7 linked regions of the Homo sapiens genome follow. The protein of the gene in region 3 purifies or fractionates together with the protein of the main gene of each other region. This does not show direct contact. Each region holds a gene or a part of one and is shown on either strand. Other genes may lie near its edges.

Region 1 (3,879 bases), on a different chromosome or scaffold from region 3:
TCTTGTAACCAGCTGCAGGGCCATCTTGTTATAACTGGTTCATGTCCTGCTAAAGCTGAGAGGTGAAGGGCTAAAAACACAGTCCTGGCACAGATTCCAGGACACCCCGGCACAGGCTTGTTTGAGGACATTGCCTGGGTAAACAGCCTCCCCTGAAAGTGTTCAGTGTACAACTCTTCACAGAGCAATCGCTCAAATGCGTGGCAGCACGCAGACATGTCTCTCGGCTTCTCTCCTTGTCTCTGTTGCCTTCCTCTCCAGTCGGTGCTTTAGAAATGCTTTATTCCCATTGTCCACTGAAAATACAACCTAGATTCCTTCAGTAAATATCTGTTAAGGAGGTCACATGAAAAGATTGCTCCAACTCATTCTTGCTGGTGGGCTCCCAAGGGTAAAATAATATAGTTCGTGTCTTCTCAGTCATGAGGAAACCATTGTCACTAAATCTCCCTGGGATGCTTCCTACATCCAACCAAACAAAGGGAGCGACAGCTGAGGTCTCCAGGTCAAAAACAAATATGTCACCTTGCTGAGAGATGATGGCCTGAAAAAGAAAAAAAAAAATGAATGAAGTGAAGGATGAGGGAAGAGTTATATAGTCTGTATACAGTTCCTGTAAACATTTATGTGGGCTTAACAAGGAGTCCACTTCCCACAACTTTGGTTCTACAACTGCTAAAGTGCAGTTTCAAACACAAAACAATACATGGAAAATGACTACAGGCTATGGAACGTTACCAAATTATAATCACAAATCAAGGAAATACATCGTCTCCAATCATTAAGGAGAATATTTCACAAGAAGCTCAAAGCTTTACATCTTTTACAGTTTTTCTCAGAGTATCATCAAGAGAGCAACATTTTTACATACAGCCTGGGTGGTTTTAATGACTTTCTAAGGATATATCTGGACCTAGCTACAGAGCCCAACTGTGGAGCTTACATTCAAGTCTCCTGAAAAGATCCAGCAATCTAGAAAGTCCACTGCCAGAAATTTACAAAAGCTCTACCATTAGAGCTTATCTCTTTTACTGCATAGTTAAGTAAAGTCACATTATTAGCATTTTTTTTACATGTGTGAATTCCACAAAATAGCAGCAAAAAGAGACAGTGCAATTTAAATCGTGTTGGCTCCATTCCTCTTAAGTAGCCGAATAGCATATGCCCAGAGTGAGGATGCGCTGCTCCCCAGAGTGGGAGGGTTTGCAAACCTCTCTTTGTGTGAGCACGGAGCTGAGTGCAACCTGGTTTCTTAATCTGTGCATTTGTCATGCAACATCTCAGTCTTACATTATATGTTATGTGTGACATAAAGAATTTCAAAGGGCCATTTTCACTATATATAATTTAGCCTTACATATTTGTGTAATATGTTATCATTCAGGGTTCTGAGTTATACACAAGGAAACCTATATTGATAGAAGCAGAAAAGAAGCTTAATAAAGCGTATCAGGTTGCTCTTCAGGATCAGAGACTCAGGCTTGAATTTGGATGGCAAATTCCCAGATCGCACCGCCCAGCTGTTCCAGTGAAGGTCCTAAAGCAGCCACAGGAACAAGGTTCATGCGGCTCATGCCAGCCTGCCCAGGAAGCTGCCAGGGTAGCATCAGCTTCTGCTGCTCCAAGACCAAGGCCGAAAGAGATGCTGGTGTCATGCTTATGCTGGTTATCTTCGTTGGATTGGAAATCTCCTCTCTGTATGTCTGACTGCAGAGCCTGGGATTCAAGCTTGCACCCTGGCTTCAGGGAGACAGGGAGAACAAGTTTCTGGCATCTCCCTTGAGAAAAGAAGCCAAATACCTAGTCTATATTAGCCCCGAATTAAACATTAACTAACAGTATTATTACTATCATTTTATCTCTTTAAGAAGGACAAGTCTCACTGAAATCAAAATGAGATAGAACAAAGAAAGAGCCCTGCTTTTCTCCCACCCCAATTACCCACCTCAAGGTAATGAAGGCCTAACTCAGGAAAGAAAAAAATTTGGTTTTCAAAATCATAAGTTTAGAGACTGAAAATTCATCCAGTACATAGTGGTTTTTTTTTTCTTTTTTGGAAAAAAATATATGTAAGACTGTCATTTTCTTCTGTTCTCTATTAGTTGTTACAGATAACTTGGATTTTATTATGTGACTATAGAAAGAAGGTATGTTTTCAGTTGTTAGGCTCTTTCAAATAAAACACAAGAATTAGGTGTTTTTATATGATTATTTCTAAATTAAATGTAGAAAATCCCTTTCTATGAAGTAAAAGTGTAAAACAAATTTAAAATTTTCTAAAAACAGAGAATGTAACTTTCTAGAAAGATATTTCCTGAGTGTCCAGAAGATAAGATAATAAAATTAAAAACATATATGTGTACATATATTTCCAACTGCTATGTGTAGGGGAGAAGGAAGGAAAGGTTTTCAACCTACTAGACAAATTCCAAATTCTCCAGCTGCACAATTTTTATAACAACACATCCTGATCATCCCATTTTTATATCTTGGCAATTATAAAAAGATTTGGTGATTGAGCTACTTTGAAGCAATAAATCAAAGAGACTAGAGTGAATATTAATAGACTCTACTTAAAATTAGACTGCGTCAGCTGGGCTCCAATGCTTCCCAGCTACAGGACCTCGAGCTCATCACTTAACCTCCTAAACTGGCTTCCAAACTTACAAAATGCAGATGATAATGCCTGGAGCTGTGGTGAAAGTCAGAGACTATGAGGTGAAGCACCTAGAACACAGCCTGGAACCTAGTGGGCATGCAGGCAGTGGTGATGACTCGAGCTTCCTCTCCCATCACTGCACCTGCCCACTAAGGAGGGGTGATGGGACAAACGAGTAGTGGTCACCAGCAACTCTGACAAATCCTGGATTCGAAATAGAAATCATTTGGTGTTTGCTTTTAGTGGGAAGAGGCCAATCTTCCCCCAGGCCTCAGGTAAACTCAGCACCAAGGGGGACACATGCAAATCTCAGGATGCAAGGAGCTGGCCCAAGAGCAGGAGAACCCCACAAGGCCACAGTCCCCTGCCCTCCGCCATGACCTGTGCTTACAGTGATCTGCGCCTTGCAGAGCCCCACGGCCTCCTTCGGTGAGGACAAGAAGTGGTAGTTGGTCGGGCTCAGGAGTTCATGGTCAGCTGAAAGGTAAAAGGAAACCACACAGCTTTCCCGTGTGCAATTCCCACATCTCCTCAGCAATTCAGACACTGGCTCCTCATAAAGGCAGACAGCCTCTCCTCCTTTCATCACAAAACGTTCAGTCACACGAGAGCACACGGGCTCCAGGGAGCTCCATGTATGGACTCTCACCTGGGGAGAAATAAAACAGAATAAAAACAGGCATTCTTGGTTGCTATGTTTTTAAGGAACAATAGTAGTAATAATTGCTGAAAGTCAGGTTAGCAGAAATGGTTAAGAGACTATGAAACCTGAGTTTTAATCCCAGTCCTGCAAAATACTAGCTATGTGACTAAGTAACTTCTCAGTCTTCATTTCTTCATATGTAGAATGAAAATAACAGCAGTAATGTCACAGGCTGTTGTGAGAATTTAAAAAATAATCCACGGAAGGCACAGTACCTGGTGCGTTGTAATTTTTCTGTAAATGTGACCTATTTTCAGTGTTATTAGTGTCCTCCAAACTATAGCCACCTAAGACTTTGAGTTTCTAGCCTTTCTTTTTACTTAAATTTGTTTTTTAAAACAAATTTGCTTTCCACATGCGCATTCTGAATAGTTTTACTGATTTTCACTATAACATGCCATTTTTAACCATTTCTTTTTATAAAGTTTGGACTATTTCCAGCCTCTCACAATTATAAATAACCTTGCATTTAAGGGGCACATTATAGCATATGTGATTTGCTTTCATCTAGTTATTT
Region 2 (3,879 bases), about 110 Mb from region 3:
AAACTTTGAGAGTCTTCTGAGTGACATGGTATTTAACTTTGTTTCCAAGGGCCAAATACTAAAATGTATAGAATATCCTACTCTATACTCACTATTAAATGTCATGGACTAGGAAATCTGAGACACAGAATAAGAAGCAACTGATTACACACCCTAGTCATTTAAGTTGGAAGAGTTCTCTTAGGTGACTCTGGGTCAGGCCATCTTGATGAGCCTTAGACAAGTTTTCCTTCCCATAAATCCTGCTTTCTCAGGCAGAATCATATACCATAACTGAAAGGAAATGGCTGCTGATTATCTGCTCATTATCTTCTTTCATTCCCTGCAAAGACACCAAAAAAACTGATTTGTTTAGAACCGCCCCCCGCCCCTGCCCCACCCCACCAAAGGCACACAAGTAGATTGTTTGAATCCTTCAGATGAAGTCTGAAGATGAATCATCTGAAGAATCCTTCAGATGAAGATGAAAGGAGATCTTTCATCTCCAAAGATCAGGAGATTATGAGAAGGACAGAAAGAGAACCTGGTGATCAGACAGACACCATCCTTCGTGTTAGCCTTTTCCTGATCCAGAAAGAATCCAGCTTCTAGTTGTAAATGATCCCATCCCTACTTTCTAAAGTTAGCTGTTACTAGGGAGATGTTACAGAGAAGGAGCACGTATTAAATTTATGGTTCTCTTTTGTTTCTATTTCAACTAGCACATAATAGAATTCAAATCTTTCTCAAATACCTAGATTTTTCCTTTGTGAGCAAAAGACAAAGTATGGTTTAAGGGTTAGAGTCTATTAGATTCAACCTCATTTCTGCTCTGCCTTCTAGGGGTTTTTAGGCTTTCCTCAATATCAGAAGATAGGTGGGCTCCTCAGTCAACTATTGATAAACATTTATTTAGCAGAGGTCATGCATTTGCAGGGTCTTTGCTGCCTGCTAGATTATAAATGAACAATAAAATGTCGCTAATCTCTTAGTCCCAAGTTAACTGCTTCTTCTGTTTTCTACTGCACTCAGAATGAATGAATGAGTGAGTGAGTAAACGAATGAATGAAAGTTTGAATGCTTACCTAAAGGAAGACAACTGTTGTCTTTCTGGTGGACACTCAGTTAAGACTACAAAAGCTTAAGGTGATACTTAGAAATGCAGGAAAAAGAATCCACATACATTGTTTTAAAGTTTTATTTGCTTACAAAAGAAAATGGAAATAGGTTTGCGAAAACTTATCTGCATGTACAAAGTAATCCCCGTAGATAAGGAGAGGCAACCCCTGGAACACACTGCTGGATAAATCGTTCATTAAAATTATATCTCTTTGCATCAGAGCTGGTGGAAAATCATTATTTCACATGAGTTAAAACCACTGAAAAACTAAATCTGTTTCTTAAACTACCAAATTCAGAAAGCTTAAATCCAAATGCTGATTTTTGGATACACATGAAACCAGTTACCAAGTGATCTCAGAGTTGGACAGATCAATTAAACAAGAGGTAGTTTCTCCAATATTGTCCCTTTTTTTCTTATCAGCAAGGTTATTCCTACAGCAAGTAGGAGTAAGTGACATATTCTTTGAACCTCTTTGAATTCTTTTCCTGCTAGGGACATATTTCCCTCAAACACAATCATATCTGTTTGTTCATTTTAGGACTTGAGAGAGAAGATTCCAGAGTTCAATTTATTTTTCCCAATTCCTCTTTGAGCTCTCTTCTCTGGAAAAACAAATTATCTGACATGCCATTAAGACACCAAAGGGAAATCATTGCTACCATGTCATAGATTAAGGGAACTTTTTAAAAATATATATTTTTTGTTAATAATAATAATAATATTAACATTATCCAAGGAGGAGATTTAGGCTGCTGAAATGAGCCCTGCCCCCCAAAAGTAGCATACAAACCACATAACAACATTTTCTCAAACAAGATTCCTTAAGAGTTCTTGCAGTTGGTCTTCAAATTTCTCCTGAGGCTATCAGACTCCAGGGCCCCACAGTTCCATGGCTTCCAGCTCATCTTGGACAGGGGTGAACTCTGGCTGATCTGGATGGGGAGCTAAAGAGGAAAAGTGGGGGTGGGGACTTGCTGCACCCAGGAATCATAAATTGATATTCTCCCCTCACCTGGGTCCTTAGAGACACAGAGATATCCTGCTGGGTAAAAAGCAGTGGATGTCTTAATCCACCACGCCCCTTGTACCTTCCCCATAAGGTTTCAGACAGTTAGTAAATAGACGAAGGGAAAGATACATTACAGAAATTGTTAGAAAACTAGAATCATAACCAACCATTTAAATATTATGTTTTATTTACAGAAGAAACCCTGAAAACTCAGCAAAATTATAAAAGAAATAGAAATTTTTTTAAAAAATCTCATGTTAGAAGTCCATCACCAGGGAAGAGCAGGGAGGGGAGGTGATCAGGGGAGGAAGGGAGAGTAGGGTGGTCAAGGAGAAAGATGCCCATCCATCCTGTGTGGGGAGAGGAAGGAGGAAGAGGCACAGTTAAGTAACTTTATTATGAAGCTGTCACACAGGGGAGTCTGGGATAAATTCTTGGCACACGATCATATACCTCTATCCAGGCTGACATGGAGCAGTCAGTGTCTATTAAAATAGACATATATGATTTGGTTAAGTTCCGATGTTATCACTCCATCATGTTTGGAGCAGAGTGGGCAAGAGGTTTGAAAGTGGGAAGGCAGGGATGCAGAAGAAGCAGGGAAGCAGAGTGTCCATTGTTAGGGGCAGGGGCTTGGTGGTGGTGGTGGTTGACAGGACAGTTCTGTATCCACAGCTAAATGTCTGGGGCCAATGGAACCAGAGTGGAGGATTTCCACTTCAGTGCTGGTAATCATTGTAGGGGATCAGATCTTAATAAGGATAGGAGTATTTGAGAGAACAGGGAGGGAAAAGATGAACAGAGAAAAACACATCAGCAAAACTTTGTTGACCAATTCCTGTGATAACTAAGGTTAAATTTCTACTGAAGCAGAAAATTTTAAACCCATTAACTAGTAAGTTCATGGCCCCACAGCAGTCCCTCAGCCTCTCCCTTGATGCTTCCAAGAGTGACTATGTCAGAAAAGGGGCCATTGCACAGCACGCCAGCATGCACACTGCAGATGTTTTAGGAAGCATATTCTTTTAGTCCAGTAGCTAGTGATAAGACAAGGACAGCATGATTTTTGTTTCCTCTCACAACTATTCTTGGTCACCTAAAATGTGGTGCTTAAATGCACCTAAATGCAAGTGGTATGCATGATTTCATTGAAAATAATCTAAGGAGCCCTCTTAATTACGGGAGAAGTTCTAAGTTTGACATTTCCCCAAACCAAGAGTAAAATTTTATGGGACGTCTTGGCCACATCACAGCTGTCACATAAGAATGGAGACTCCAAAAGAATGTTCAACCATGTCCTCCAAATGTGCTAAATACAAAGTCAGAGGCCAAGTCTATGTAGGTCATCACTGGGAAGCAAGGAAGACTTAGATGTGCTGTTATTTTGAATTTGCTCTTAAGGTTTTTAAGGGAGTAGCCTCTATAGCAATTTGCACTTTATAGAAAATGTCTCGGGATAATTTAAGGAAGTGAGGCATTCAAGCTCTGCTTCCCATTCATAACCAATTTAACTTTTTTCATAGCACTATCTTCCCATTTTGGTACTAAGCATACTAAAACATTGATCAAAGCCCACAAGCGGGGCTTTTTGTGACACTTACCTCTCACACCATAGGCAGAACATGATGAGGGGTCACAATATCCAGGCTGGCCAGAAGGACCTTGGGGTCCAGGAACCCCCAGATGACCTGGTGGGCCTCTTGGTCCAGGAGAGCCAGGGGGCCCAGGGCTGCCAGGCCGACTCTCCCCTGAAGGTCCTAAGAAGTAC
Region 3 (4,413 bases):
AAAAGTGGGTGCCAGCCAACCCCATCATCAGTGTCAATATAGAAGCACTGGGAAGAAAGCCCTGAGTGACAAGATGTCAGTGTTCTCTATGATTGGCCTTGCTTGGTATCTTATGTACAAATGGCTTGTGGGGTAGCTGTTTAACCCAGGCCTGGCAGCCTAGAGGGCTGCTGGAACAGGACAGCCCTAGTCAGAATTTGTACCCCAGACTGGAAAACTGGGGAATTCCCTGTAAGCCCTGTTACAGGGGCTGCACCCCAGATACAACCTGACCTGTGTCCAAGGCGGGCAACTCAACCCTTAGATATTGAATGGGTCCCATGGCACCAATGCTTAAACACCAGCAGCCCTCACAACCACAGATCGTGTTTTAAGGATGAGGAGGTAGTTCTCTGGATGCACAGGCTTCAATCCAAATGGGCTCATGACGCCGCAGCACACACCCAGACTGCAGCCTGAAGAGTTGGAGCATTGCATTCACAGAAAGCATCCAGACATGATCATGGGCTCAGGGATACACCTGTTCTCCGATGTGTACCAGTGAAGGATGGAAACTCCTATGCCTCCCAGAAAGCACCACTCAAGCTTTTGCTGAATGCTTCTCTGAAGGCCCACAAGGCCTGAGAGGCTGTGCAACACCAGCAGTAAAGTGAATGCCCAGACTCCCACCTCCTTTCTTGGGTGGCCATCTGGAAAGGCCACTCCCACCCTGATGGCTAATGCCTCAGACCAGTTCTTGGCCCAGATGATCCTAGACAATTGTTTAAGCTTAAACTGTTCATTGGCCAAGCAAACAGGTGATAGTCACCTCTGGGGAACCACATGCCGCGTGTACATCCAGTACTCAGGAGAACCCAAAAATGTCTGTTCCACATAGCAACAGAAGCCCAGGTAGCACTCAGTCTCACCTGGGTGTTCTCCAACATCCCAGCTCAGCCAAATGGCTTTCATTAGTTTTTATGGTTAGACCCCAGGTCCTCGGGACACTGCTTTAGAAACACATTCCAAATCCTCCTCTGTGTGCAGGTGGCATTCCTATCCCAATCTCTTTGCAGGGCGTATACTGTGATACGCAGCCAGGCTGTCCCAGAGGCCTTAAATATTCCCTTGGTGCAGGTAGTTCAGCTTAGCCACAGCCAATGCATCACAGGGTCAACTGTGTTAGGAGCCATTGAGAATCCATAGTTGGTTGCTGCCTGGGCCTGGCCAGGGCTGACCAAGGTAGATGAGAGGTTCCTCTGTGGAGTTCTACTTTAACCTCACCTTCCCACCAAATTTCTCAACTGTCCTTGCCACCACAATTATTTAATGGACCCAACAGAAAGTAACCCCGGAAATTAGGACACCTCATCCCAAAAGACCTTTAAATAGGGGAAGTCCACTTGTGCACGGCTGCTCCTTGCTATAGAAGACCTGGGACAGAGGACTGCTGTCTGCCCTCTCTGGTCACCCTGCCTAGCTAGAGGATCTGTAAGTACTACAAAACTTAAACTTTACACTGAGTTTTCATTATTGAAGCTATGCCTCCAATCTGACCTCTGACTGTGGGGCCACCCCAGAGGGAACCAGCGGGCGAATCCCTGCTAGGAACGTCTGTCCGGACCTCTGGTGACTGCTGGGGACGATGGCTTCCAGCTAACTTAATAGAGAAACTCAAGCAGTTTCCTTCTAAACACACATGTCACATGTCCTGGTTGACATGTCCAGTAGAGACTATCACAGGTCTTTGGAACATTCTTTTGAGAGAAACCTATTTAGGTCCTTGGTCTGTTTTTCAATCAGGTTGTTTGATTTTTGCTATTGAGTTGTTGGAATTCCTTATGTATTCAGATATTTGCCCCTTCGGCCATGTAGGTTTTGCAAATATTTTCTCTCATTTTCTGGGTTATCTTTTCACTCGGTTGATTGTTTCCTTTGCTGTGCAGATGCTTTAGCGTTAAATGAAGCCACACTTGTCTATTTTCCCTTTTATTGCCTGTGCCTTTGGTGTCATAGCCAAGAAATCATTACCTACATCAATGTCAAAAGCTTTATCCTTCTATACACTTCTAGTAGTTTATGGTTTCAGTTGTTACATTTAGGTTTTCAATTCATTCTGAGTTGATGTTTCTACATGGTGTGAGATAAAGATTTAAATACATACATATATAAAATCATGAGGTAGTGTACACTATAAATATACAATTGTTAATTGTTACTCAAGTCTAAGTAGAGGTGGAAATAATAAACTTTCTTTTTTTTACTTAAACCACTCTGTGTCACTGAGCTGATTTCACCTTTAGCCTGATAAAATCATTGTCCTCTCCACCCTGATTCCTACAGGAGACTACTCACCCCATAACCTCAAAAACCTCTTCATGAGGATGGTAAGTCACCTGAATCCTGAAGTGAATTACTCGCTATTCCATTGGAACTCATATAGGACACCAGAATCTAGACCTCCAGAGAACAGCAGGACCCATCTTCAGAAAATAAGAAGCATTTGTTCCCTGAGCCTGTTGAATCAAAGTGCAATTTCTATTCTTTTTGGAATGTTAAAAAGTGAATCATAATATTTAAGCAGGTGAACCCACGAGTAACATAGCAGGGTCTTTCTTGTCATTATTAGCTCCAACCTAGCACAGACATTAAAGGTACAGATGTATACTAGCATGAAACTGGGAGAACAGGAGCATTCGAGCAACCTTGAGACCAATGGGCCTCTCTTATAAAATGCACACCTCCTCTCACTGAGATTGAGGAAGGTTTCTTGTCTCCGAGCCTTCTCCCAGTAGAGCTATAAATCCAGGCTGGCTCCTCCCTCCCCACACAGCTGCTCCTGCTCTCCCTCCTCCAGGTGACCCCAGCCATGAGGACCCTCGCCATCCTTGCTGCCATTCTCCTGGTGGCCCTGCAGGCCCAGGCTGAGCCACTCCAGGCAAGAGCTGATGAGGTTGCTGCAGCCCCGGAGCAGATTGCAGCGGACATCCCAGAAGTGGTTGTTTCCCTTGCATGGGACGAAAGCTTGGCTCCAAAGCATCCAGGTGAGAGAGGCAGGCATGCAGAGCTGCTAAGTCTAGAGGGAAGGACGGGAGAGAGGTTCCAGAGTTGGGTCTCAGCAGTCTATGTCACTGAGGTGGCTTCACTTAGAATCTCTGGGCATTGATTTTCTCATCTAGAAATTGAACAGAGAGCCAAATAAACATGAGAAACTTTATTTCTCCAAAGACTTGATTCCAAGAAACGTCTGTGAAATTCACTAAGTTTCAGATATGAAGAGACAGACTAGTTATTTCTGGATCTAAACAAGTAGACTTAGTTGTAAAGAGAACATTTTACTCTATCTACAGAAGAGCTTTTAAAAACTGCAGCCAAGCCTGAGGATATGTTCAGGTGTGTGTGTGATGGGGCAGGAATGCAAAAATGAGAGCAAAGGAGAATGAGTCTCAAATTCTGAGTGACAAGCACTGCTCTGCGTGTTTATTCCTATCGACTGAGGTTGTTCGTGCTAACGGCTGCAATGCAGCCAGCATCACCTGTCAGCTAGCATGTGACTTCCCCGAGATTCTTTTTCTTACCCACTGCTAACTCCATACTCAATTTCTCATGCTCTCCCTGTCCCAGGCTCAAGGAAAAACATGGCCTGCTATTGCAGAATACCAGCGTGCATTGCAGGAGAACGTCGCTATGGAACCTGCATCTACCAGGGAAGACTCTGGGCATTCTGCTGCTGAGCTTGCAGAAAAAGAAAAATGAGCTCAAAATTTGCTTTGAGAGCTACAGGGAATTGCTATTACTCCTGTACCTTCTGCTCAATTTCCTTTCCTCATCCCAAATAAATGCCTTGTTACAAGATTTCTGTGTTTCCACCTCTTTAATGTGTGATATGTGTCTGTGTCAAGACACTTGGGATACACGTACCAAAACGCAAAATCAAATTTTTGAACAATATAAAATTCCAAATTCTAGGAATTTCAAGCAGGAGTTTGGGCTTCAGATCCAAATTGAAAAGAAGGCCCATATGACACCACTGATTTCCCCACCCACTGCTCTGCCTTTTCACCCTGCCTCATTTTCTCTGGATCCACTCTCAAAGAGCTCGCGTGTGCTGGGCAAACAATCGGTGTCAGCTTACATTTCATGCAGTCACAAAATCATTACTTCTCCGGGAAAAAAAAACCATCCTCTGTGCTAAAGAATTGGAGTTTCATTGAACAATGTCAGATTGTACATTTTCCTTTTAAGACATAGGGTTACATGAGATCCACGGAAAAAACTTTCATTCAGAGGGAAATGGGTTGTTAGCAAAGGCGGGATACATGGAACAGAAAGCACAGCATCTCACATTGGCACGTCCTCATTAAGAGGACCCTCCAGCCACGTCTACTAAGACCTGGATTTCACAATCATAAAGTTGTCTTCACACCCAGAAAA
Region 4 (3,879 bases), on a different chromosome or scaffold from region 3:
GTCTCACCTGCTACCTGAAGAAGGTCCCGCCCTCTGGCCCTTGAGGCCCCGAGTGCCCAGGAGCTGCTGCCATCAGCATGGATGGGTGGTACCAGGCAGGCTGTGGGTGCAGGGTGCTTGGGGAGGGCCAGGTGTGCCTTGGGACGTGTGAAGTGGGAGCCTGGAGCAGGGAAACTGAGGCCTGCTCTCGCCCCTGCTGCCCACAGCTTATCTGCCCCCTGGAGACCAGCCGTGCCTGACCCTGGGGTCGTCAGCTCAGTCCTGCTGGGTCCTTCCTCCACCCCATCTGCTGAGAGCTCCTCCAGGGCAGGGTCTGAGCCTGCCAGGCCACAGAAAACACTGGGCGGATGACAGCTGCCTGTCCCTTCCTCGGCAGTCTGCATGCAGTAGTGCTGGCCTTGCTGCCTGCCCCTGGAGCCATCACTGGCTACCCCGCCTGCTTCAGAGCTGCCACCCCTGGGGCTTTCTGACATGTCCTCATAGGCGGGGGTGGCCTGCAGTGGCACCGCACCACTTGCCAGGCACTGTGCCTCCCTCCCTGCAGGGAGGTGTGCGGTCAGATCAGGCAGTTGCCAGCGGACACCAAGAAGCGCTTTGTGCTCCCCGGGGTCCCTCCATGCCCCCCACCCCCACCCCTGCCCAGGGCAGTGTGAGGGGAGGAGGGGAGCAGTGTGGGTACACTTCCATGTTGCCATCTGGGGAATCCTGGCGGGGGGTCAGGGCCCTTCTGGAGCTGCTCCCCCGGGCAGTGAGGGGCCCTGTGGGCTCCTAGGCTGCCTGCCTGGCCCTGGTTCTACTTGGCCTGAAGCCCACCCACCCCAGCGTGGACAGGAGCCAGGAGGAGGAGCCCTCTAAGAATGACTGCAGCCTCTCCCGGGGCTGAGCCCACACACACACACCGGGCATATCCACAGCCGCCACCACGTTTTACCCACCTGTCCAGTGTCCTGACGCCTCCAGCCCAGCGTCATAGCGAGCCTGGCAAGGACATGCTTCATGCTGGGCTCCTGCCGCGCAGGGGAGGGTGGGAGGTGGAGTCTTCCTTGGGTCGTTTCTCCCTTGTGCACGCACCGTTACATACTGTGCAATGCGTTGGTGTCTTGGGGGACAACCCAGCAAGTAGAGTTGGTGTATACGTCATGGCTTCCTCTGGGGTCCTGGGCTGGCTGGTCCGCTGGGCACCCCCCCCCCAACCACCACCAGGCCTTGGCAGGACCCTGGGACTGGGACTGGAGGTGACCCTCGCTGGCCCCTGCCCACCTTCTGTTCCTGCTGAGTGGCTCTTTGGGTGGCACCATGCCCAGGCTGTAAACAGCTGGTGAAGACTGCTGGCCTCAGGCGGCTGTGGCTCTGCGACTTCTCTGGATGCGGTATTGGTGGCTCCACCCACCAGCAGGAAAAAGTCAGGTTGTCCCTCCAGAGGAGCCAGGCCAGGCGCTGCAGGGCACTGTGGTGGTCATCCTGGGTAGCCATGTGACCGTGGCATGCTCCTTGGCATCTCTGATACCGGGTTTTGAAACGACTGAGAGCTAAGTGCAGGAGTTGGTTGGCATTAGAGGCGAAGCCCAAACTCCTGTAGTGGGGACTTTGACTCAGAGCAGCCCTGGTAGCCCCCCTCATGCTGCGTCACAGCCCTCACCTCCTCTCCCCGTCTCCTTGCAGGAAGTTCTACTACATCACCCTGCTACGAGACCCCGTGTCCCGCTACCTGAGCGAGTGGCGGCATGTGCAGAGGGGTGCCACGTGGAAGACGTCGTTGCATATGTGTGATGGGCGCACGCCCACGCCTGAGGAGCTGCCGCCCTGCTACGAGGGCACGGACTGGTCGGGCTGCACGCTACAGGAGTTCATGGACTGCCCGTACAACCTGGCCAACAACCGCCAGGTGCGCATGCTGGCCGACCTGAGCCTGGTGGGCTGCTACAACCTGTCCTTCATCCCCGAGGGCAAGCGGGCCCAGCTGCTGCTCGAGAGCGCCAAGAAGAACCTGCGGGGCATGGCCTTCTTCGGCCTGACCGAGTTCCAGCGCAAGACGCAGTACCTGTTCGAGCGGACGTTCAACCTCAAGTTCATCCGGCCCTTCATGCAGTACAATAGCACGCGGGCGGGCGGCGTGGAGGTGGATGAAGACACCATCCGGCGCATCGAGGAGCTCAACGACCTGGACATGCAGCTGTACGACTACGCCAAGGACCTCTTCCAGCAGCGCTACCAGTACAAGCGGCAGCTGGAGCGCAGGGAGCAGCGCCTGAGGAGCCGCGAGGAGCGTCTGCTGCACCGGGCCAAGGAGGCACTGCCGCGGGAGGATGCCGACGAGCCGGGCCGCGTGCCCACCGAGGACTACATGAGCCACATCATTGAGAAGTGGTAGTGGCGGTGGTGGCCACGGGGAGGCCTCTTGGGGGGTGTGGGGGATAAAACAGGACAGACGACAGGTCCACCCAAGACTGTCAAGGGATGAGCATCCCAAACCTGCTCCACAGAGGTAGCTGCGTCCTGAAAAAAAACAGAGCAGGGATGTAGTGGGGCTGGGCAGGGATGGGGGCTTGAGAAATCAACAGGTGCAGCCCAGTGGGTCAGAGGAAAGCGTGCTCGAAGGATGCCATGGTCAGGGCAGGGCCTCCAGAGCAGGTGTTGTGCCTGGAGCTGCTCTCCTGGCCTCCTTGGATTTATCGCAAAAACTGAAGGTTTGCGCAAGAGACGAGGACAGCGGAAAGTGGACCTGCCAGGCCGGGAGTGTGTCCCTCACCAACTATGCACACAGCACTCGCTCTTAGCTCCTCTGTCCGGGCTACTAGGAGTGAGACCAGCTTCTGGCAACTGCCCCAGCTCCAGGCCATCCCATAGCCCCTCCTCTTCTGGCTGCCCCCAATGCCCCGAGGCCTGGGGAGCCCCCAGCTCACCCATCTGTAGCTCCCTCAAAGTCAGGGCCCACCCCATCTGAGGCAGAGAAGACTCGAGTCCAGCCCCCAGGAAGCCTGCTCCCCTCTCTGGCCCATGGTCCTGCTTCATGCTTTGGGTCAGGAGGCCAAAGCTGATGTTCAGGCCCCACCCACTCCCTACAGTCCTCAGACCAAGGAGGGGTTTGGGTAGTAGGCCCGAGCTGCATTGCCGGCCTTCCTCGGGCCAACTGGCAGCCCAGGAGTGGGGAGGCTTTGGCCAGGGATGCTGCCACTTGTGCGTGAGTCCGCGGCTGGCCCTTGGAGGTGACCATCCAGGCAGGCCTGGCTCAGACTGGAAGGGCTGGGGACCGAGGGCTCCCCTGCCTCTGTTCTCCTTTCTGACCCACTGGGATTTGCTAGCAGGCTGCCCCAGCCCCATCACCGAAACACATACTCAAGAGCTCAAATACCACTGCTCCCACCAGCGTACGGATTAAGTTCATCAGGCTTCCATCGGCTGGAGCATGGGACCATAGCCCCTGCCCAGGAGCCGTACCCTCGGACCACAGTGGCTCTGTATGGCCAGGAACTGGGACTCGAGCTTTCAGATTCTCAACTAGCCTTGGCAAAACAGCTGTAGGTGGCCTCCCTGACAACAGACACTCAGCCCTCCCCACCCTGGCTCTCCTTGCATTTCCCCATGCTCCCCACCCCCTGGCAAAAGGCTGGCCATGCTCTGTTCCCAGCAGCCGCGCAGGTTTCCCCACTGGCTGCAATGGCCCTACCAAAAGCCATGTTGCATATCCGTTGTAAGCACGTGCCCTGTGCCCTGTCCCCATTCCTTATGCCCTAGGAGGCCAAGCTGGTGTCTCTAGGAGGGCCCACACAGGCACCCTGGATCCCCCAGAGAGTAGATTGGTGTGCTCAGGCCGCAGGCTGACTCAGAGGTAGGGCAGTGGGCTCTGCAGGCCACCTGGCTGGGGTTGGTGGGGGTCCT
Region 5 (3,879 bases), about 15 Mb from region 3:
AACCTCTCTGTGTTTCAGTTTCCTCATCCATGAAACGATAAAAAATGATAGGCCAGGTGCAGTGGCTCACGCCTGTAATCCCAGTACTTTGGGAGGCCAAGGCGATCGGATCACTTGAGGTCAGGAATTCAAGACCAGCCTGGCCAGCGTGATGAAAACCCGTCTCTACTAGAAATACAAAAAATTAGCCAGGCGTGGTGGGACGCACCTGTAATCCCAGCTACTCAGGAGGTTGAGGCAGGAGAATTGCTTGAACCTGGAAGGCGGAGGTTGCAGTGAGCCGAGATCATGCCATTGCACTCCAGCCTGGGCAACAGAGCAAGACTCCGTTTCAAAAAATAAAAAATAATAAAAATGATACCTACCTTGCAGGGTACTAAGCTTTATAGACATGGCTCTGAGCCATTAGCACCATGCTTGGCAAGTGACTCTTCCCACCCTGGTTAGGTTGACAACCCAGGTTTAAACAGATGAGCTGCTCACAAGCAGAAACAGAACCGAAGCCCTCAACAGTGAACCAGTGGACAGTCGAGGGCTTCCAACCCTGTGACCTCAGGCTTCCCAAATACACAGTTCCTGAGTCATGGAACTAGCTAGAGGGGACCTTATACTGATATTGTCTAAACTGCATTCTGTCTCTGTACTCCCCTGTGTAAAAAGATGGTTTGATAAAGAACAGAATCCACAAGATAGCCAGGACAGGGGTGAAGCTCCTGGAGAAGATGGCCTGTTTACCTTTCCATCTGCTGATTCACCTTAGAAGCATGTGTGGTTTCTTACTCAGGTGATAGGTTAATTACAGATCTGTAAGCATTTCCTGATTCCTATGGAGGACCCAGCACTATGCAAAGATCTGTAGGGGATTCAAGACAGGAACCCCTCTGTTCCCACGGAGATTGCAGCCTAGCTGGGGAGAGACATGGGCGTGCAAGGAACACAGGGGGCGTGGAAGGCCAGAGCGCAAAGAGGGAGGGCAGGGGGCTGTGTGAACCCACCGATGGGTAATGGTGACAGCTCACGGTTCAAGTGTGGGTAGACGGGAGCTTCACCTGCCTCTACCAGGGACTTGAGAGGGCCCTGTTTTCCGGGCCCTCGTGCTGTATCTTGCCCATCCTTCTCCCCACCAGTCATAGTGCCTGGCCGCCTGTTTCCCCCAGTGAAAGCTGTCCAATAATGTCATCATGAATAATGATCATCAGCTTGTAAATCTGAGTCGGGGCAGGGCGTGGTGGCTCATGCCTGTAATCCCAGCACTTTGGGAAGCTGATGGGGGCAGATTGCCTGAGCTCAGGAGCTCAAGACCAGCCTGGGCAACATGGCAACACCCGTCTCCACTAAAAATACAAAAAATTAGCCAGGCGTGGTGGCGCAAGCCTATAGTCCCAACTGCTTGGGAGGCTGAGGCACAAGAATCGCTTGAACCTGGGAGGCAGAGGTTGCAGTGAGCCAGGATCGCGCCACTTCACTCCAGCCTGGGCAACAGAGCAAGACCCTGTCCCCCCCCACCCCGCCCGCCCCCGCAAAAAGAAATTGAGTTGGGGAAGCCATGCTTTTCAGAGGCAGAAGTCAGATTGCCGTGGATTGAGGAGACCTGCCGTGAGAGTGTGGCCATAGCGAGTGTTCTCGAAGGCTAGCTGGAAACAAAAGGAGAGCGATGGGCTGTAGCTGGAGGGGCCTGGGAGAGCTCTTTCAGGATGTGTGAAGGTTCCGAGGCTGCAGAGCTGAGTGAGAGCGTGAGGCTGGATCATTTGTGGTGTGAGGGTTCCCACGCGTGGGCAGCAATGAGCTGCACCTCCCAGAAGGGCAGTCCATCCTGACGGGGAGGAGGGACACTTGCTCTGAGGCTTCAGGGCAGCAGGGTAGCAGGGTAGGTGGGTTTGCAGGTCGGAGTCCAGAGGTTGAAGCCATTCATGGTGGAAGGCCCTGGCTTTGTCAGGAGGTAGGAGAGAGGTGGTCTGCCACTGGGAGCTGACACAGTGGCTTGAGGAGGGGGCTGGATGTTTGCAGCAGTTACTAAGGAGGTGAGAGATGGAGCTGGTAAAGGCCAATCCAAAGAGTATCAAGTGGTCTGGGGGCCCAGGTGAGGCTGGAGCCACAGGTGGAGTTTTCTAAGATAGTGCTGTGCAGAGCCGGGGATGCAGGGCCACGCAGGGTGCAGAGGAGCAGGCTGGGTGGTCAGCCCTGCAGTCAGTTAAGTCAATCGAGGAGGAAATAGTGGGAGAGAATAGAAAGATCAAGACCCTGGAGGTCTCTCTAAAATTAAGAGGCCAGCCAGGCACAGTGGCTCATGCCTGTGACCCTAGCACTTTGGGAAGCTGAGGCAGGAGGATCGCTTGAATCCAGGAGTTTGACATCAGCCTGGGCAACATAGTGAGACCCCATCTCTACAACAAGCAAAAATGAAAAAAATTACCCAGGTGGCATGCCTGTAGTCCCAGCTACTTGGGAGGCTGAGGCGGGAGGATCAATTGAGCCTAGGAGCTCAAGGCTATGGTGAGCTATGATCGCACTACTGTACTCCAGCCTGGGTAGCAAAGTGAGGACCCATTTTTGTTTTTGTTTTTTAATTTTAATAAAGCCAAATGACCATGATCAGGAAGGTGAGGTCCTGAGCACCCCGAAGGAACAGGAGGTGGCCACAGAGGGGTGATGTGTTTGTGATGTGAAGAAACAGTGGATGATGACAAAGCCCTCAAGGAACCGAGAGGCCGTCTTGGGTGGACCGTTATATGTCTGTTGACTTCACCTGGGAGGGTAGCAGGAGTGGGGGTGGGGAGAACTGAGTCAGGTGTCAAAGTCCCCTGTGACTGTCCAGGCTGCTGGAGATCAGTGGATGACAGCTTCAAGGAGGGGCACAGGTCAGCCGGGTGCAGTGGCTCACGCCTGTAATCCCAGCACTTTGGAAGGCCTAGGCAGGTGGATCACTTGGGGCCAGGAGTTCGAGACCAGCCTGGCCAACATGGTGAAACTCTGTCTCTACTAAAAATACAAAAATTAGCCAGGCATAGTGGCTCACGCCTGTAATCCCAGCACTTTGGGAGGCCAAGGTGGGTAGATCTCCTGAGGTCGGGAGTTTGAGACTAGCCTGGCCAACATGGCGAAACCCCGTCTCTACTAAAAATACAAAAATTAGCCAGAGATGGTGGCGCACGTCTGTAATCCAAGATACTGAGGAGGCTAAGGCAGGAGAATCACTTAAACCTGGGAGGTGGAGGTTGCAGTGAGCCGAGATCACACCACTGCACTCCAGCCTGGGCAACAGAGCGAGACTCCATCTCAAAAAAAAAAAAAAGAAAGAAAGAAAAGAAAAATGGAGAGGCACAGGTGATATGACCCCTGTGGCCCAACACCTACAAAGGTCTGGGGGTTGTCCAGGGAGCCTGCGATGGCTGCTTCATGAGTGCTGCCATGTGAGGCCTCACTCAAGGCTTTTGTAGGAATCGGGCAGCTAGATTTTCCCCAGACGCAGTAACCTCATGAAAAAGAAACGATGCCTGCCTGCCATCCAGTTCATAAGTGGGACAAGAGATGGAAGAAAGGAGGGGGGGCAGGAGGGAAGGGCCTTCCCCACAGGAGGCATCGGAGCTTGGGGTCCCTCTCTATCCCCTTCCGTCACTCGCTTCCCTGCAGCCGGCTGTGACCACAAGGTGACATCCACCAGTGGTACCATCACCAGCCCCAACTGGCCTGACAAGTATCCCAGCAAGAAGGAGTGCACGTGGGCCATCTCCAGCACCCCCGGGCACCGGGTCAAGCTGGTAAGGGGTCCCCTCCCCACTCCTTATGCGGTGTGGCTGCCCCCGGTCAGAGGCACTGCCCAGAGCCACACAGGCTGCAGGCTGAGCCCAGAGGTCTGCCATCCCCAGGAGACCCCAAGTC
Region 6 (3,879 bases), on a different chromosome or scaffold from region 3:
AGTTATACAGCAGAACAGAAGCTCTTTTAGGTACTACAGGGTTATATATTTTCCCCGTTGCGTATATGCTCAACAGCTCGACATTGCATTGCCAGATAATTCTCAAACCTGTATTTAAGGAAAAGTGGATCAGCCACATCTTGGCAAAACTCACAATTTCAGTTTTGCTTTGTCTCATCCGTGTTATCAATCCACATATGCCAAATGTGGATTTACAGTGTATTGTAAACTTTAAAATGGTAAGTTGTATGGTATATGAATTATATCTCAATAAAAAAGAAATTGAGTAGAACTGTTTGACGTTAATGTCTAAATTATAATTAGACATTGGAAAGATAACTTTTAAAGTAACTATAGAAGCGTCATTAGACAGGGTCTGGCTCTGTCATCCAGGCAGGAGTGCAGTGGCTCAATCTTGGCTCACTGCAACCTCCACCTCCCAGGCTCAAGCCATCCTTCCACCTCAGCCTCCCCAGTAGCTATGACTACAGGCACGCACCACCAGCAGGACTAATTTTTGTATTTTTTTTGTAGAGATAGGGTTTCACCATGTTGCTTAGGCTGGTCGCAAACTCCTGAGCTCAAGCATTCTGCCTACCTCGGACTCCCCAAGTGCTGGGATTGATACACTTTTAATATTATGTCTGATAATTAGGAAATTTATCATGTTCACTGTATTGGATAATTGGATTACTTGATAATTTGAATTATTCTGATTTTAGGTGAAATCTGTGACTGTTGCTGAAGGACTCATAGAAGACCATTTTGATGTCACTGTGAAGATGAGCACCTATCTGGTGGCCTTCATCATTTCAGATTTTGAGTCTGTCAGCAAGATAACCAAGAGTGGAGTCAAGGTGAGCCTATGACTGTCACATATGGTGACCAGCTTGTTCTGGTTTGCTTGGAACTGGTTTTAAAACTGGAAGTCTGCCTGAGCGCAGTGGGTCGTGCGTGTAAACCCAACATAAACCCAACAGTTTGGGAGGCTGAGGTGGAAGAATCACTTGAGGCCAGGGGTTTGAGACCAGCCTGGACAAAATAGTGAGAACCTGTCTCTGCAAAAAATAAAATAAAAAAATTAGCCAGGCATGGTTCCTTGTGCCTGCTACTAGTCCTAGCTACTAGGGAGGATCCCTTGAGCCCAGGAGTTTGAGGCTTCAATGAGGTATGATTGTGCACTCCAGCCTGGGCAACAGAGCAAAACCATGTCTCTAAACAAACAAACAAAGACAAAACCAAATACCAAAATCCTGGAAGTCCTGCATCCTGGGAACCTTCTCAATCTCAGGCAAACTGGGATGGTTGGCCAGCCTGTTGTCACGGATGCTCATTTGTATAGTGAGGTTCTAATAACAACAACGTGGAGAGAGTGTGGCCTGGCCTGAGTCATGATCCTGGCTTCACTGCAGTCACTTCACTGACTCTCTGACCTTGGCCCTATTCCCTCTGAAACTTAGTATTTACTTCTTTGGAAGGTATAACTTGGACTAGATCCTGCAATGGTCTCTAAGGTTGCTTCTGGTTATGGCTTTCTGCAGTTTGGAAGTAAATGTTACTATCTGGCAGGGGATTTCTGGCTATGGTAAGGAAGATAGAGCAACCTGCTTGGAATACCCAAAGGCTTTGGGCCAGGTACACTGGAATGCTGGAGAGAAAAATCTTGTTTCAAGGCACACTTGTTCCTCATTTGGGTACTGTTGCATAGTGGGCAACCTATTCAACTGTGTGCCGTAGCTCAGAATGCAAACAGGTTTTTCTGAGGGGAGGAAGGGATGCTTTGTTTGAAGATACCTTATGTGTTTGTGCTGGTTTTCACTGAGGCCTGAATAGATGGGGATTCCCTGCTGAATTGCTTTGTGTTCCTCTAGTGCTGAGATTTCTTATTCTTGTGGAGGTATCTTTACTTAACTGGGGATTTGAAGGTGACGCTTGAGACTCGGATGAAGGGAACATTCTTAATTCAGCAGTGAAACTATCAGCAAAAACACCCGCCCATTGCTTTGCCACTTATCTGAATCTCTTAGAAATGATTATTTTAGTAATGTCTAATCTATATTAATATTTTTAATTCTTTCATTTCTTTAAACACATTAAGCATACAATTATATATCTGTGTCTGGTAATTGTTTTATCTGAATTCTTTGTGTATCTGATTTTGTGGTTCGTTGTTTCTGCTGGCTCTTGCTTATGGTATCTTGTTTCCTTGTTTGTATTATGAATTATGTTTGTGAGCTTACGTTGCCTGAGTCTAAAGTGGATTATTCCAGAGAGAAATTGTATTTGCTCTTACAGAGTGTCTGGGAGTACTTACTGGTCCAGGGATCACTTTACTTGTAGTTTCCTTGAGAAAGGGTAGTTATTTCTAGTTTACCTTTACATTAAAGGCCTGGCCTTTGGGTACTAGCTTTATGCAGGGATTGTATGTCCTGTTAGACTTTCTACTTTGGGCAGGCCCTGGACTTGGTCTCTTAACTCCTGAGTCCTTCAATGACATAAGAACCAAAGCTCAAGTCCAGCTGTGTTGGGCTAGTGCCGGCAGGGTTAAAGCTGGCTGCAGTGCTCTCCTGACATCAGAGGGTCTAACTGTCATTTCACTTTGGCTTCTAAATCTTTCTTTCTCATTTGCCATCTTATAAACACATTTAAGAACACTTTATACATGTTATCCAGCATTTGTTGTTGTTTTCAGAAGGGGGATTAATCAGGAACAGTCAGTATTAATGCAAGAAATGGAATTCCCAATTATTTTCTTTAATATTGGCAACCATATCCCACAATATGAAGACATTAATGTCAGTCTTCTACACAATGTGGGGAGAGAAGCCAGTTAAGATATTTGAATTCCTTTCTGTGCCTTTCTCTTTAGGTTTCTGTTTATGCTGTGCCAGACAAGATAAATCAAGCAGATTATGCACTGGATGCTGCGGTGACTCTTCTAGAATTTTATGAGGATTATTTCAGCATACCGTATCCCCTACCCAAACAAGGTAGAGATTTTGCACAGATATTACACATGACATTTGATGAACACAGTCATAGATTTGTCATTATAATTGGCACATCCCTGTAGTTGCCTCAGCAGCCCCTCAAGCCACAAAAACCCCAGCAAGTGACAAACCTGCGGTTGATCTTTCTGAGCATCTCCTCACCCTTGATGAGTACAGTAACTTCTAGTGATAGTGAAGAAAGCAGATCTTCATAGAGTTCTTGAGGCATATGGCATGGGGACTCTTTTGCCTTCTGATTTTATTAGTGGGCAGACAGCAGAGGGAAGAGGCTACATTTTTTCTTTACTGGCACCTGCTTGGCAGGAACCCAGAGGATGCTCAACAAACTGTTTTGAATGAATAAATTTATATAGTGTAAGACAATCTGAATTTTCTTTCTTACACAAGCCCTTAAAACTATTGTATGTTTGATTTTTTAGGTATATGTGGGTCTTGGGCATCCAAAATAGAATGGATTATTATAATTGTTTAGTTTTTCAATTTCCAAACTCCTCATCAGAAGGTTAGAAATGGAGTCAAGAGGCCTGAAAAGGCGGGCACGGTGGCTCATGTCTTGTAATCTCAGCACTTTGGGAGGCCCAGGCAGGTGGATTACTTGAGCCCAGGAGTTTGAGGCCAGCCTGGGCAACATGGCAAAACCCTGTTTCCACAAAAGTACAAAAATATTAGCTGAGTGTGGAGGTGCACTCTTGTAGTCCCAGCTACTTGCAAGGCTGAGATGGGAGGATCACCTGAGCTTGGGAGGTTGAGGCTGCAGTGAGGTGTAATTATACCACTGCAAATGCACTCCAGTATGGGTGACAGAGTGGGACCTTGTTTCCAAAAAAAAAAAAAAAAAAAAAAAAAAAAGGCCTGAGATGCAAGTCTG
Region 7 (3,879 bases), on a different chromosome or scaffold from region 3:
GTCAAGTGTAAGTGGCCCGGCCCCTGCCTGCGCCCTGCACCCTGCCTCTGCCCCGCACCCTGGCCGGCCCCAGGCAGCATAGCCAGCGCCGCTTGCCGGCGAGGCAGTCCCTCCTGCCCAGTCTGCCCACCCTCAGGTGCCCGCAGGCTGGGGCACCTCGAAAGTCTGTGGAAATCTGCATGCTTGCCTTTTCTCAGATTCGGTTCCAGACCATTCTTTCATGGTTTCTGTTGAGGTTGCTGTTTTTGGTTTCTCCTACTCCGTGTCTTCCCTCCTTAGCCTGCCTGCCCCACACACTCCTGGGGGCTGCATTCTTGGAAGACACCCCCTCCCCTTACCTTCCCCCTCCCCTCCCCACCCACCTCCACTCCCCTTCCCCTCCCCTCCCCTTCCCCCTCCTCCTCCCCCTACCCTCCCCTTTCTCCTCCCCCTCCTCCTGTCCCTCTCCTCTCCCCTTTCCCCTCCCCTTCCCTTTCCCCTTTTCCTTCCCCCTCCCCTTCCCCCCACCCTCACCATCCCCCCTCCCCTCACCTTCCCCCCTCCCCTTTCCTCCCTCCACCTCCTCTCCCTTCCCTTCACCTATTCCCCCTCCCTTCAATTCCTTCCTCCTTCCCCTTACCTCCTCCCCAATCCCACCTCCCCTCTCCTCCTCCCCCTCCCCTCCTCCCTCTCCCTTCCTCCCCTTCTCCTCCCCCTCTTTCCCCTCCCCTCCTCTCCCTCCAGTCCTTCCCCTCCCCTCCTCCCCCCTCCCCTCCCCCCTTTTCCCTTCCCCTCCCCTCTTTCTCCCTCCCCTCCCCTCTTTCCTCTCTCTTCCTGTTCAGCTCTCTACCCCTGTGGTGCCCCCTTCCCATGGTGCCTCTCTCTCTCTCTGCCCCCTCCTCTCCATTCTTTCCTCATCCATCCTCACTCAGTTCCCACTTACCCTCTCATCCTTCTCCTCTCACTTCCTACCTCTCTCCCCTCTGCATCCAACCTCCCTCCCTTACGCACTGTCCTCTCTTCTTCCCTCTCTCCCTCCTCTTCTCCCTGCATCTCCTCTATCTCCCTCTTTCTCCTGCTCACCTCCTCCATCTCTCTCTCTCACTCTCCCTCCCTCCCGCTCTCCCCACCCCAGCACCCCCCCCCCTTCAGTCCCACTCCCCACACTCCCTCCGCTCTGCCCCCTGGCTCCCTCCTCACCTTCTTTCTTCCCTCCTTCATTCCCCATCCCCCTCCTCCCTCCCCCTCCCTGCTTTCTCCCTGGCCCCCCTCCTTCCTCCCCTGCCTCTCCCACTCCTCTGCCTGTGGCTCACCCCTGCATGCCCTGCTCATCCTGGGCCTCTCCTGAGAGAGTCTCTAGAGCCTGTGGCCCTGCCTGCCCACCACGCCCGAGGTCACTGGGAGGGAGGCTGGGGCTCCGGCCCCACCGGGCGCCCCCCACCTGCCTGGCCGACTGGGGGCTCATCTCCTTTGAGTTTTCTTGCTCTCTCTTTCTCTCTCATGTCGTTTTTTGCAAGAAGTTTCCTTTCGGTATGATGATGAGACACAATATTTTCATTCAAACAGCCATTGAATAAAATATTGTTTGTGCCCCTCCCCTTTCCCTCCCCCTTTTCGTTTGTTTTTGTGTTTGTGTTGTTTTTGTTTTCCTCGCTTTCTCTCTTGGTGGACTGTCCCAGTGCCAATCAGCAAACTGAAGGGCAAGTATATTCAGAACCAGTGCACCCTCCTCTTCCCACCCCTCCCATCCTCACGCCCCTGCTTGCCCCCCTCCCTGCCCAGGACCAGCCAAACCCCTGCTCTCCAGGGCCCCCTCCCAGCTTCCCCTTGGCTCCTCTAGTTCTTGCCTTTCCTCTGATTCCTAAGCCCCTATGAGAGCCAGTGGCCTGTGCCCCTGGCCCTGCCTGCAGGGTGTTCTCCGGCGTGTTCTCAGGGCCCACAACCCTTTCCTTGGACCCCTCACTCTCTCTGGGGAGGCCCCTGCCTCCCCCACCTTCTCTGTCCCTCTAAGACAACTCAACAGTAGGGACAGTCTGGACGCTTCTCCACCACCTCCCACTCAGCAGGGCTGGAGGCCTGAGATGCAGGGGGTAGATCAGCCCCTAGTGGGGCTCATGTGAAGCTGTGGGAAGGGGCCAGCCCACAAGGCCTACTCTGAGGTAGCTCTCCCTCCTCTGATCTCTGGCAGTAGCTTCAGAAGCTGGCAGCCCTCCAAGAAGGGAGGCAGAAGGCTCAGAAGCCTCACGCCCTGATGCTGGGGCCAAAGGGCAGCATAGGGCAGGCCCCAGCCATTGAAGAGCAGGGCTGACCCGCGCCTCCTGGGCACTGACACAGGTGCTGATGTCCCCGTGTCCTGCCGGCCCGCTGCTTCCAGAGGCTTTGCTGAGCCCCGGGGTGGCTTGGCAGTATGGAAAAGGTGTTTCCCTGGGGAAATAAAACCAGATTTGGGGACCAGGGGCCTGGACAGGGATGGAATGGGATCTGTTTAGACCCCAAGAGCCAGCAAAGGTGTTTGGAGGAAATCAGGCTGGGTATGAAAGGAAGGGTTCTGGCACACTGGGGTGCCTAAGCCAAGGAGACTTCTGGAAGAGTGGGTAGTGAACCCCTAGACCCTGGCAGAGAGTAAGGGGAGTGAGAGAGGACAGCATTACAAAGGTCTCAGAGAGCCACCTCTCCCAGGGAATCCCTGGGCAGATGGGGCATGGAGAGCCACAAGAGGATGTCCCCATGACCTGGAAGCAGGGGCACCCAAGAAGCCCTAGGGGCCCTGTCCAGCCTAGTCCAGCAAAGGGGATAAAGGGATCAGAGCCACCTCCAGTGGCCAGGGCGGGGGTGGGGGATGTGCCCTACTCCCACTGGCTTGAGTTGTCTTTTTCTCCCCACCCCCGCACATCCCACCCAGTGACCCCAGAAATGCAGGGCCCTAGTAACAATGACAACATAGCATAGTCTCCTTCCCTGCTCCTTCGCCCTCCTTTTTCTTTTTCCTCCTTCTCCTCTTCCCCCCAACCCCTTCCCCATCGGCTTGTGTCCAAACCCTGCCTCACAGTCCTATCAGAAAGGAACAGTCCAACCAGTGACTGCCCAGCCCCTCCAAGCACCCCAAGTGCCCCCTTCCCCAGAATCTTGCAGTGCATTGTGGGAGTATTTGGTATCAGGGACAATCTGTCTTCTATACAATTAAAGCCCTGGGAGCAAAAGAGAGCTCAGAAGTGGAGACAGGCTAAGAAGGTGGACCACCCACAGTGAGACAGGCCAAGAGCAGAGGGACCCCTCCCAGGTGCAGACCAGCAAGGTGGCCAGTCCAGCTGGGCAGGGAGAGGCCACAGAGGAGCCCCAGCGGCCACATCCTCAGGTTCACTCTCAAACCCATACAGAGATACTCACACTTAGGCACACACACACACACACACACACATGCATGCTCACTCACCCACACATGCACAGCTCATAAGCCCAGGGCACAGGCCCAACTGGGGATGCCTCAACAGCAGCCCTATGCCCTCTCTGGAGCCCTAGCATCCCCCATGGCTGCCTGGAGCCCAGACAGGTTTTAGGAAGGGTGGAGACCCAGCCCGTCTCCACGCCCTTAGCCAAGGGAAGCAGGTACAGTTTCCAGCAGCACCCCTGTCCTCCTTCCAGCTCCTCAGACTTTCTTCCCACACTGTGGGAACACTCCTTGGCACTTTGAGGGTCTCCCTTCACCTCCTAGCCCAGGGAGGACCACCAGCCCCGACAATGCACTGCAGTGAACCCTCAGCTGCCCCGACCCGTCTCTGGTTGGACTGTTTGTGCCCGTGAGAAACCCCCTCGGTTTGGCCATGTTGATGCCTGACACAGAACAAAAGCAAGACCTACCAAAACGCAAACAGCTGCGGCAAAGAAAGAGAGAGAAAAATC

The links.
Region 1: the proteins of DEFA1 (region 3) and MANBA purify together in Homo sapiens (affinity purification with mass spectrometry, with the first as the bait; 2 studies listed by BioGRID). This does not show direct contact.
Region 2: the proteins of DEFA1 (region 3) and COL14A1 purify together in Homo sapiens (affinity purification with mass spectrometry, with the first as the bait; 2 studies listed by BioGRID). This does not show direct contact.
Region 4: the proteins of DEFA1 (region 3) and HS6ST1 purify together in Homo sapiens (affinity purification with mass spectrometry, with the first as the bait; 2 studies listed by BioGRID). This does not show direct contact.
Region 5: the proteins of DEFA1 (region 3) and BMP1 purify together in Homo sapiens (affinity purification with mass spectrometry, with the first as the bait; 2 studies listed by BioGRID). This does not show direct contact.
Region 6: the proteins of DEFA1 (region 3) and ERAP1 purify together in Homo sapiens (affinity purification with mass spectrometry, with the first as the bait; 2 studies listed by BioGRID). This does not show direct contact.
Region 7: the proteins of DEFA1 (region 3) and CACNA2D2 purify together in Homo sapiens (affinity purification with mass spectrometry, with the first as the bait; 2 studies listed by BioGRID). This does not show direct contact.

What each region holds. Positions count from the first base shown.
Region 1 is NC_000004.12:102,631,738-102,635,616, forward strand, and holds part of MANBA (beta-mannosidase precursor), read right to left. Parts: intron 3,309-3,879; coding exon 3,051-3,308; intron 545-3,050; coding exon 320-544; 3' UTR 1-319.
Region 2 is NC_000008.11:120,369,319-120,373,197, reverse strand, and holds part of COL14A1 (collagen alpha-1(XIV) chain isoform 1 precursor), read right to left. Parts: intron 3,869-3,879; coding exon 3,713-3,868; intron 2,863-3,712; coding exon of another isoform or gene 2,831-2,862; exon of another isoform or gene 2,462-2,830; coding exon of another isoform or gene 2,364-2,461; exon of another isoform or gene 2,047-2,363; coding exon 1,967-2,046; 3' UTR 1-1,966. UniProt on the Homo sapiens protein: Plays an adhesive role by integrating collagen bundles. It is probably associated with the surface of interstitial collagen fibrils via COL1.
Region 3 is NC_000008.11:6,977,070-6,981,482, reverse strand, and holds DEFA1 (neutrophil defensin 1 preproprotein), read left to right. Parts: upstream 1-1,390; 5' UTR 1,391-1,470; intron 1,471-2,322; exon of another isoform or gene 2,323-2,357; coding exon of another isoform or gene 2,358-2,366; intron 2,367-2,836; coding exon of another isoform or gene 2,837-2,848; coding exon 2,849-3,023; exon of another isoform or gene 3,024-3,154; intron 3,155-3,603; coding exon 3,604-3,713; 3' UTR 3,714-3,834; downstream 3,835-4,413.
Region 4 is NC_000002.12:128,266,654-128,270,532, reverse strand, and holds part of HS6ST1 (heparan-sulfate 6-O-sulfotransferase 1), read left to right. Parts: intron 1-1,662; coding exon 1,663-2,371; 3' UTR 2,372-3,879. UniProt on the Homo sapiens protein: 6-O-sulfation enzyme which catalyzes the transfer of sulfate from 3'-phosphoadenosine 5'-phosphosulfate (PAPS) to position 6 of the N-sulfoglucosamine residue (GlcNS) of heparan sulfate.
Region 5 is NC_000008.11:22,203,224-22,207,102, forward strand, and holds part of BMP1 (bone morphogenetic protein 1 isoform 3 precursor), read left to right. Parts: intron 1-3,630; coding exon 3,631-3,758; intron 3,759-3,879. UniProt on the Homo sapiens protein: Metalloprotease that plays key roles in regulating the formation of the extracellular matrix (ECM) via processing of various precursor proteins into mature functional enzymes or structural proteins.
Region 6 is NC_000005.10:96,794,153-96,798,031, reverse strand, and holds part of ERAP1 (endoplasmic reticulum aminopeptidase 1 isoform b precursor), read left to right. Parts: intron 1-722; coding exon 723-857; intron 858-2,869; coding exon 2,870-2,990; intron 2,991-3,879. UniProt on the Homo sapiens protein: Aminopeptidase that plays a central role in peptide trimming, a step required for the generation of most HLA class I-binding peptides.
Region 7 is NC_000003.12:50,370,865-50,374,743, reverse strand, and holds part of CACNA2D2 (voltage-dependent calcium channel subunit alpha-2/delta-2 isoform b precursor), read left to right. Parts: coding exon 1-7; intron 8-1,658; coding exon of another isoform or gene 1,659-1,679; intron 1,680-3,879. UniProt on the Homo sapiens protein: The alpha-2/delta subunit of voltage-dependent calcium channels regulates calcium current density and activation/inactivation kinetics of the calcium channel.